Linked DNA regions of Homo sapiens: region 2 is linked to region 1. Evidence: fine-mapped expression QTL. A gene starts in region 1. The other region holds a variant in brackets. All regions are shown on one strand. Distances are between the middles of the regions. Region 1 holds the start of INSC (INSC spindle orientation adaptor protein). Region 2 overlaps INSC (INSC spindle orientation adaptor protein).

Evidence for each region. PIP is the estimated chance that this variant, and not a neighbour inherited with it, causes the effect. A credible set is the group of variants that fine-mapping cannot tell apart.
Region 2: its variant is the best candidate, but not a certain one, in a credible set for the expression of INSC in whole blood (INTERVAL, PIP 0.74).

What each region holds. Positions count from the first base shown.
Region 1 is chr11:15,112,519-15,116,907 of GRCh38, forward strand. It overlaps INSC (INSC spindle orientation adaptor protein), which reads left to right and starts at 2,405. Exons shown (of 13, transcript NM_001042536.3): 1 at 2,405-2,485. RefSeq lists enhancers at 878-927, 1,579-2,112.
Region 2 is chr11:15,167,460-15,171,848 of GRCh38, forward strand. The region is part of intron 2 of INSC (INSC spindle orientation adaptor protein); the gene reads left to right. Among named protein-coding and RNA genes, the nearest start is that of INSC, 55 kb to the left of the region's middle. The variant G/T (reference allele first, on the strand shown) is at 1,817.

The DNA.
Region 1 (4,389 bases):
GCTGGGGTCTATGGGGAGTCCAGGAGTCCAGGAGGCTGTGCTGTGCCGTATGTATCTGGGAAGGTGGATGTGAGTGTGTGTGTGTGTGTGTGTGTGTGTGTGTGTGTGTGTGTGTGTGTATTGGGAAGTGGGGGGGGGGCATTTATGCCAAGTGCCTCCAGGGAACATCTAACAAACCAAGTCTGTTCCTCTCTTACCCTGAAACCCAGACACAGAGTTTGGGCCTGGAAATAAAAGAACTTTGAGGCTTTTTTGCTAACATCGATCTGTTTATGATCTAAGCCTCATTCTATTTCTAGCATATAATAAAATATCTTAGTTTTCCAGGTGCTTTACATCCTTGACCTCACTTCATACTTTCAACAACCTCATGAGCTGGGCAGAGATTTTTATGTTCCCCAATGTACATATGGGAAAACTGATGCTCAGAGAGGTTAAGTGATTTGTCCAAGGACTCATCACTAGAAAGTAGTAGAGGCAGGATGCAAAACAGGTTTCTTTGAGGAAGAATTGGAGACTTCTTTCCTTCCCTTCCTTTCCTTCCCTCTCTTCCCTCCCTTCCTTTCTTCCTTCCTTCCTCTTTCTTTCTTTTCTCTCTCTCTCTTTCTTTCTTTCTTTCTTTCTTTCTGTCTCTCTCTCTCTCTCTTTCTTTTTTGATGCAATCTCACTCTGTTGCCAGGCTGATGTGCAGTGGCACAATCTTGGCTCACTGGCTCACTGCAACCTCCGACTCATTGGTTCAAGCTATTCTCTTGCCTCAGCCTCCTGAGTAGCTGGGGTAACAGGCACATGACAACTCGCCCAGTTAATTTTTGTATTATTAGTAGAGATGGGGTTTCACCATGTCGGCCAGGATGGACTTAATCTCCGGACTTTGTGATCTATCCACCTTGGCCTCCCAAAGAGCTGGGATTACAGGCGTGAGCCACCACTCCCGGCTGAGACTATTCTTATCATACCACCTGCCCTACCGGAAACAGACTCAGAGAGAAGATTCTGCAAACAGTCTGTAAGACTGTGGTTTCAGTGGTAATGCCCAGCCAGGCGGCACCAAGCCCTGTCCCCAGCCCTAGACAGCACTTGTTGAAACAGGAACTGAGGCCCCTCTCAGGGAACTTGGGGAGTAGAATCAGGCTGTTCTGGATGACTGGAGGGTAGAGTTGAAGCTGGCTTGTCTGAGAGGAATGATTTGGCCACCTTCTGAGCCCTGGGCCCCCAGAGAGCTGAGGAGGAGAGTTAATATCAGAGAGCTACTGTGTGTGTTCGAGTCCAGGGAGCAGCAGTTAGCTTCAGCCAGAGCCTGAAAAAAGAAATAGAGATTATTAGCATTAAGGAAGAGAAGGCTGCAGTGGGACCTCGGCGTGGTCGTTTTGTCATGGGGACTGAGTTGAGCTCCTTCTCCCTGAATACATATTGTGAGCAAATTGACATAGTTTGCATGTGAGAGATTTAGGTTAGATGTCAAGGAGATCTTTCTGTCAGTAAGAGAGTTCAAGCTTTGGAACAGGGCTCAAGGGAGACCAGGGGCTGCCTTTGCTTGAGGACCTCCAAGAATAGGTCAAGATTCTCTGGGCTCTGGGAGCCTCATAGCAAGATGGCGGAGGCGGGGGAGGGGGAGTTGTATGAAATGATCTGGAAGCTTTCTTCCAGGTCAAAAATGCCACATTCCCGAGCTTTTGGGTAGGAATCAAGTTCCTCTAGATTTAGCTATTTGACAGAGTCCAGGACGGGGGTGGGGGGTGGGGGGTGGGGTCTGATCTTATGTGCCGAAGTTAGAAGGAGTTTCTGCAACAACCCCTCGTCATTTTTGGCAGGTCCAAGATGTGGAGGGTGACTTAGGTGTGTGTGAGCAAGGTTCCAGAGGGAAGCACCTGCGGTGAATAAACCGTCTCATTCTAGGCGTTTGGGGTCTATCAAAGCTGGGTGGCTTCCTCCTTCCTAGCAAGTGAACTGCACCCAAATCCCTCCTTGTTTTGTTTCAGCTCCAAGGGAAACGATCGCGGCACATTCCCTTCCCCTCTCCAGATGTTGGCATGCGGGGCACCTTGTGGGCGACCCCGCCTGGACGGCTTCGCGGCTCCCGGGCGATCACCCTGGTGCCTGCCGCCTGGCCCGGGGGAGCCCGGTCTCTAATTAGGCCTGACCGCGTCCCCATTCCAGCGCTCCTGCAGATGGGAGGGAGGGCCATGTTTCCCCCCCCAGGGGCACCGAAATAGCCTCGTAGTCCCGCGGAGACAGCAGGCAGCCGTGGCTGACGCGGGACCAAGGCTTGGCAGGGAGCGCGCTGCTGTGGAAGGTCCTTGGGAGGCTGCGACCGCCTCGGAGAGGGCGGGCGGGGGAGAACGGGGCGGGGGGTGGGGCGGGGGCCAGGGGCGGCCTCTCGGGCTGGGCCGGCAGAGCGGCCACTTTGCGCGCGGCCTCTGGAGCTCCAGCTGCGCCCCGCCACCACTGGCCGCTCGCACTACCAGCCTGTCTCGCACGCTAAGTAAGTAGACAGCTCCCCTAGCTGGATTCAGGGGGCTGGTGATGCCTCTGCTAGCCTAGTTGGGAACAGTGCAGGTTTGTCACTAATTGGATAGTAGGTGTAAGTGTGTCAGTGGGAGTGCTTGTGAAGGGGAGCTTGCGCCAGTGTGAGGGAGTGTGTCTGGATGGGATGTCCACATGTGGAATTTTCTAGCATGTGCCCCAGGGTGCGAGTGTGGGTGAACGAGTGTGTCAGAGTGTGTGGTGGCCTGGAGTGGGCCACAGGTATTTGCCTGTGTGGCACCTGCTGCCCTGGGTGCACTGTGTCTGTACCTGTGGAAATGCCTGTGTGTGTGGCAGGAAGGCCCCCAGGTGGGCTGAGCCAGTCCACATGTGGATGAGTGGATGTGCCAGTGTGAACCCAGGAAGGCAGAAATTGGGGCTAGGGAGTGTTATCTGAACTCAGGCTTTCTAAGGTGACCTGACTTGTCCCAGCTGGGGTGTCTTCTCTGTGGGTCATTCAGCTTTGGTTTCTCAGGGCTTGGAGAAGGACAGAAGCTCAGAGCCCTCACACAACACTGGAGTGAATGTGGCTCTGACTAACCCCATCTGGCTAGACCAGGGTCAGGGAGACAGCTTGGGAGACCCCACTCTTAAACCAGGAGAAGAGACAGGAGGCCAGGGGATGAGTGGACCATATGGCCATGGCCACCCACAAACACTCGCAGTGCACCCACGCTTACATGCTCAGCATACACACATTCCTGTCCATGTGCACCAGTCTTGCACACACTCTTCTCAGGATAGCCATGCAACCATTCACACTTTCAACATGTATACCTGTGGACAACGACATGTATGCAACATGCACCCACTTTGTTCAATGCATATGCGCAAATGTATCCCTGGTGTGGCCCCACCCTCAGCCGCTAGCCTCCTCCCACTTTTGCCCCTTTTAATCTATATATTATACCTCTGACAATGGGTCCAAGAAACTGGCCTCAGTGGGGAATATTTTAAGTCAGGGACTTTGGCTGTGGGGGTCAGGGCAGATGGTGATGTGGTGCCTTTGAGGGGTTCCATTGAATCTGAAACTGAGGCTGTCCATGGAGCTCAGCCAGAGAGCATCTTGTCCCTTTAGCTCTGGGACTTAGAAGCACTGTTCGCCCTTTTAGAAGTGAAAACTTCCAAACACTGCCTTTGGAAGGCAAGCCAGGTCAGGCTGGGATCTGACATGGAGCTCAGCATATATAATTTGCTCCATGCTGTAGTTTATACTCTGGATTACACTTGCTGCAGAGAAGCAGTGACCTTTCTGGGTTGGGTCCCAAGGCAACCATTTGGCAGGGAGGACAGTGAATTGAGCTGGGTTGATTCTTTCTCTTCTTTGGTTTCGTTCAACCCTACTTTGAGTCTCCCTCCCACAGGCTGGTGGAGGGATGGCATTTGCTCTGCTCCTTTCCTTTCTTCCAGTGGTTATCTTTTTTTCTGGACAGAATCTTCTCCATGACCTCCTCCCCCTGGTGACCACTGGGCACACACTATACAGCGCTTGGAAGAGTAGGTGCCCTAAAATACCAGCTGAGTGGTGGTGTTATTCTTCTTAGTAGAGCTTCTAGACCTGTCCCATCCTGGCTATTCTCTTCTGAATACTTCAGTGAGGTACCCAGACTAAATGTGCTCTTTCAGCTGGGAAGTTAGAAAGATGGTATTGAGCTTCCTTCCTTCCCTTCCTTTCTTCCTTCCTTCTCTTTCTCTCTTTTCCTTCCTTCCTTCCTTCCATTCTTTCTTTTTTTCTTCCTTCCTTTCTTTTCTTTTCTTTCTTTTCTTTCTTTCTTTCTTTCTTTCTTTCTTTCTTTCTTTCTTTCTCTCTCTCTCTCTCTCTCTCTCTCTCTCCCCCTCCCTCCCTCCCTCCCTCCCTCCCTC
Region 2 (4,389 bases), 55 kb after region 1:
TTTTAAACTCTTCTTTTAAGAGAAAGGGTCTCACTTTGTCACCCAGACTGTAGTGCAGTGGCACCATAATAGCTCACTGCAGCCTTGACCTCCTGGGCTCAAGTGATCCTCCTGCCTCAGCCTCTTGAGTATCCTGAGTAGCTGGGACCACAGGGAAGAGCCACCATGCTCAGCTAATTATTATTAATAATAATAATTATTATTGTAGAGATGGGGGTATCGCTATGTTGCTCAGGTTGGTCTCAAACTCCTAGTTTCAAGGGATCCTCCCACCTCCACCTCCCAAAGTGTTGGGATTACAGGCATGAGACATCACACCTGGCTTAAGCTCATTCTTAAAGTAAACCAGATTCTGCTTTTCCCCACTGGCACCTTGTCTGTCCTCATTTCTAGGACTGTTACCGTGAAAGGCAACTCCTGCAGCTGGACAGCTCTGTGTGGCTTTGGCCTGAAAGCAGCAATTATATCTTGGCGGCTCATGATTCTTGCCCACTCTCCTCTCCCGAGCTGTAGGCAGGGTCAGGGGCTCACAGTTTCCCTTCATCTTCCTTTGCCCATAGCAGCCCCAAGTTGTTGCTTGGGCAAATGGTCCTCCCCATCTGCCTATGTTAAGGCTGCCTCATCCCTCTCTCTGCTCATCTACTTTATTATTTTATTTCATTTTATTTTAAGTGCTGGGATACACATGCAGGATGTGCAGGTTTGTTATATAGGTAAACGTGTGCCATGGTGGTTTGCTGCAACTATCAACACATTACCTATGTGTTAAGCCCCACATGCATTAGCTATTTATCTTGATGCTCTCCCTCCCACTACCCCACTGACAGGCCCTAGTGTGTATTGTTTCCCTCTCTGTGTCCATGTGTTCTCATTGTTCAGCTCCCACTTATAAGTGAGAAAATGCAGTGTTTGGTTTTCTGTTCCTGTGTTAGTTTGCTGAAGATAATGGCTTCCATATCCATCCATGTCCCTGCAAAGGACATGATCTTAGCATGGTGCTCAATGCATGGGATATGCTCAATAAATTCCAGTCATTATTATATTTCTAGTTATTGTGACACGTGTGAAGGTGTTTTATATGGGGAAGAGCAGCACAGAGAACTAACATTTTTGAGTGTCCCCTTTTGTGCCATGCAGTGTGCTAGGCCCTACACATTCATCACTTAATTTAATTCTTCCATCAACCCTGTGTGGAAACCTCTATTATTATCTATTTTGTGGATGAAGAAATTGAGGCTCAAATTGGTAAGAAGTTTACTCAAAACACAAACTTATGTTGTTAAAAGTCAGGATACTGGTTATCCTGGTTGGGGAGTGACTAGAAGGGGCTCAAGGGAGAGTTCTGGGACAATGGTAATAGTTAGGTTTCTTTATCTGGTTGCTGAATTCATGGATGTGTTGACCTTATGAAAATGTATTGAACTGTAGCTCAATATTATGATGTGTTCACTTCTATGTACATATGTTATATTTCGATAAAAATTTCAGAAAATGGAAAAAAGAAGCAGCAGCTTGCCTAAGGTCACACAGATTATGAGAAGCAGAGCTAGCTCTTCCTACCCTTATGCCAGTGTGCAGGCCTTGTTTGCTTGTGTCTGGATACATCCCCCTTATGCTCAAACTCGTAGACAATAGGCTACTCAGTCCCAAGGAAGCTGTGGCTCAAGGCCTGTCTGTTAAGGTGGTTAAGGAAGGAGCAGGGTCATTATGAGCCATCATGAGGGGCCTCAGAGGGAGGGTTCCCGATGTAGCTAGGCATTGAAGGCACAGGTCCACGAGGCTCACCTGGGATTCATCTGTAGGACAGATGATGAGG[G/T]CCCGACTGGAAGACAAAGCTACTGGGAGTAGCTATGTTCCTTTCCCCTGAGAGAACAACTTCCACCCATAGCCTGACTGGTGACCGCTTTTCTTTCCACTTCCCAGTTCTTTGAGGAAGGCTCTGTTCCTGGCTCTTTAGCCAGGTTTCACCTATCATCCTGGAGCTTGGACTCTCAAGGTGTTCCCTGCATGAGGCTCATGATATAAAACCAGAGAGACAGCTAGTCTGGGCTCACAGTTTTTGTTGTTGTTGTTGTTTGTTTGTTTGTTTGTTTGTTTTTTTAGATGGAGTCTCACTCTGTCACCCAGGCTGGAGTGTAGTGGTATGATCTCTGCTCACTGCAACCTCTGCCTCCCAGGTTCAAGTGATTCTCCTGCCTCAACCTCCCGAGTAGCTGGGATTACAGGCGTGTGTCACCACACCCAGCTAATTTTTTTTTTTTGTACTTTTAGTAGAGACAGGTTTCACCATGTTGGCTAGGCTGGTCTCGAATAGTTATAGATTTACAGAAAGTTACAAAGGTAGTACAGAGTGTTCCCATATACTCCACACTCAGTTTCCCTGATTGCTGACGTCTTATATTACCATGGCACATTTGTCACAACTAAGGGACCAGCATTGGTCCATTACTATGAACTAAACTCTAGACATTGCAGTTGTCCCTTGGCATCCATGAGAGATTGGTTCCAGGACTTCCCACAGTTACGAAAATGTGTGAATCCTCCAGTCCCTGATATAAAATTGCTTAATACTTGCATATAAGCTACACTTATCCTCTTGTATACTTTAAATCATCTCTAGATTACTTATAATACCTAATACAATGTAAATACTATGTAAATAGTTGTTATACTGTGTTTTTTGTGTGTGACATTTTTATTATCATATTGTTATTTTTTGTTTTTTTGAATAATTTCAATCTGCAGTTGGTTGAATCCATATATGCAAAATCTGTGGATATGGAAAGCTGACTGTATTCAGATTTCACTAGTTTTTTTTTCATGAATATCCTTTCTCTGTTTCAGGATTCCACCCAGGATATCATATTACACTTAGTCCTCATGTCTCCTTAGTCACCTCTGTTCTATGACAGTTTTTCAGTCTGCCTTTGTTTATGATGACCTTGACCACTTTGAAGAGTATTGGTCAGGTGTTTTGTAGAATGTCCCTCAGTTTGGGTTTGTCTGACGCTTCCCTCATCATGAGACTGAGGCTACGTGTCCTAGGGGAAGAATGCTACAAGATGAAGTGCACTTCTTATCATATCCTTTCAGGGGTACATGCTAGCAACATGCCTTATCCTTGGTGAGGTTAAACTTGATCACTTGGTTAAAATAGCGACTGCCAGGTTTCTCCACTGTAAAGTTTCTTTATTTCTCCCTTTTCTATACTCTTTTCTTTGGAAATGATTCACTAAGTGTACCCATGCTCAAGCTCCTCCACCTCCAGTTTTTAATCATCCAGTTTATATGAGGTAAGTCCTGTAAACACATATACAGTCATCTATTTGCGCAAATAGGGATATACAGACACACAGACAGATACAGGCATCCAGATAATATAGACAGGCACCCAGATGGATTCATATCCACAAACACAGACACTGGTAGGCACAAACACGCAGGGCTTGAAGAAATCAATAGTTCTGTCACTCCAATTCTCCTACTAGCAGAGTGCTGAATCGATTAGGAGTTTAATTACAGCTTCTGAAATCTCACTTTCTTTTTAATTCTTACATAGCTTTAAAAACAATAACTAAGTATATACCTCCTGTGTGCATTGGGGTGGAGGGCTTGACAAAAATGTGAGTTGTGGATCTGAGCAGGCCTCCCAGGGCCTTGTTCTCCTTTCCTACCTCTACCATGGCTGTGGGGTTGGGTTGGTTCTTTCCTTTCCAGGCCAGAGGTAAGGGGTGTGAGTGCCTCCATTCAGAGGATGCCAGAGCTCTTCCTTGGGGAGCAGTCCCAGCACACAGGTTTCCTTTGAGCCAGGTGGTGGTCCCAGGTGCTGTAATTTGGCTGTTTTCCAGTCCTAGCCATCCCTACCTCCCCTGCCCTGCCCACCCTCCAGTATCTTCTCAGGGATCTCAATGTGAATGGCCAGCCCCTAATCTGGCACCGAAGGCTTCTCACAATCAGGGCCTTGGTGTACCTTTCTGGCTTTCCTTATCATGGTTCCCTCTCTTCCAGAATGTACAACTCTAGAACAGGGGACTTACTTATTGTCCCTTTGACTGCCTCACCCTGGAATATGCTCTCACTGTCTTGACAAGTCCAAACCCTACCCAGGATATGACCACCTCCTCCAGGCACCTGCCCCTGATCTCCAACGGAAAGGGGGAGTTCTCTTCTTGGAATTCCCAGCAGATCCTTACTCTAAGAAGAACACCAACTCAACTATGTTTAGTTATCTGTGCACTTGTGTCTTAGAAAATGTTCTTTTGGTTACAAGCAATAGAAATTAACTCTTGGACTTGTCTCCCCACTCCCCAAGTGATCCTGGAGGTTCTCATGGAACAACTGAAGTTGCCATTGTTAACATGTCCCATGTACAATAATCCCTGTCTGTAT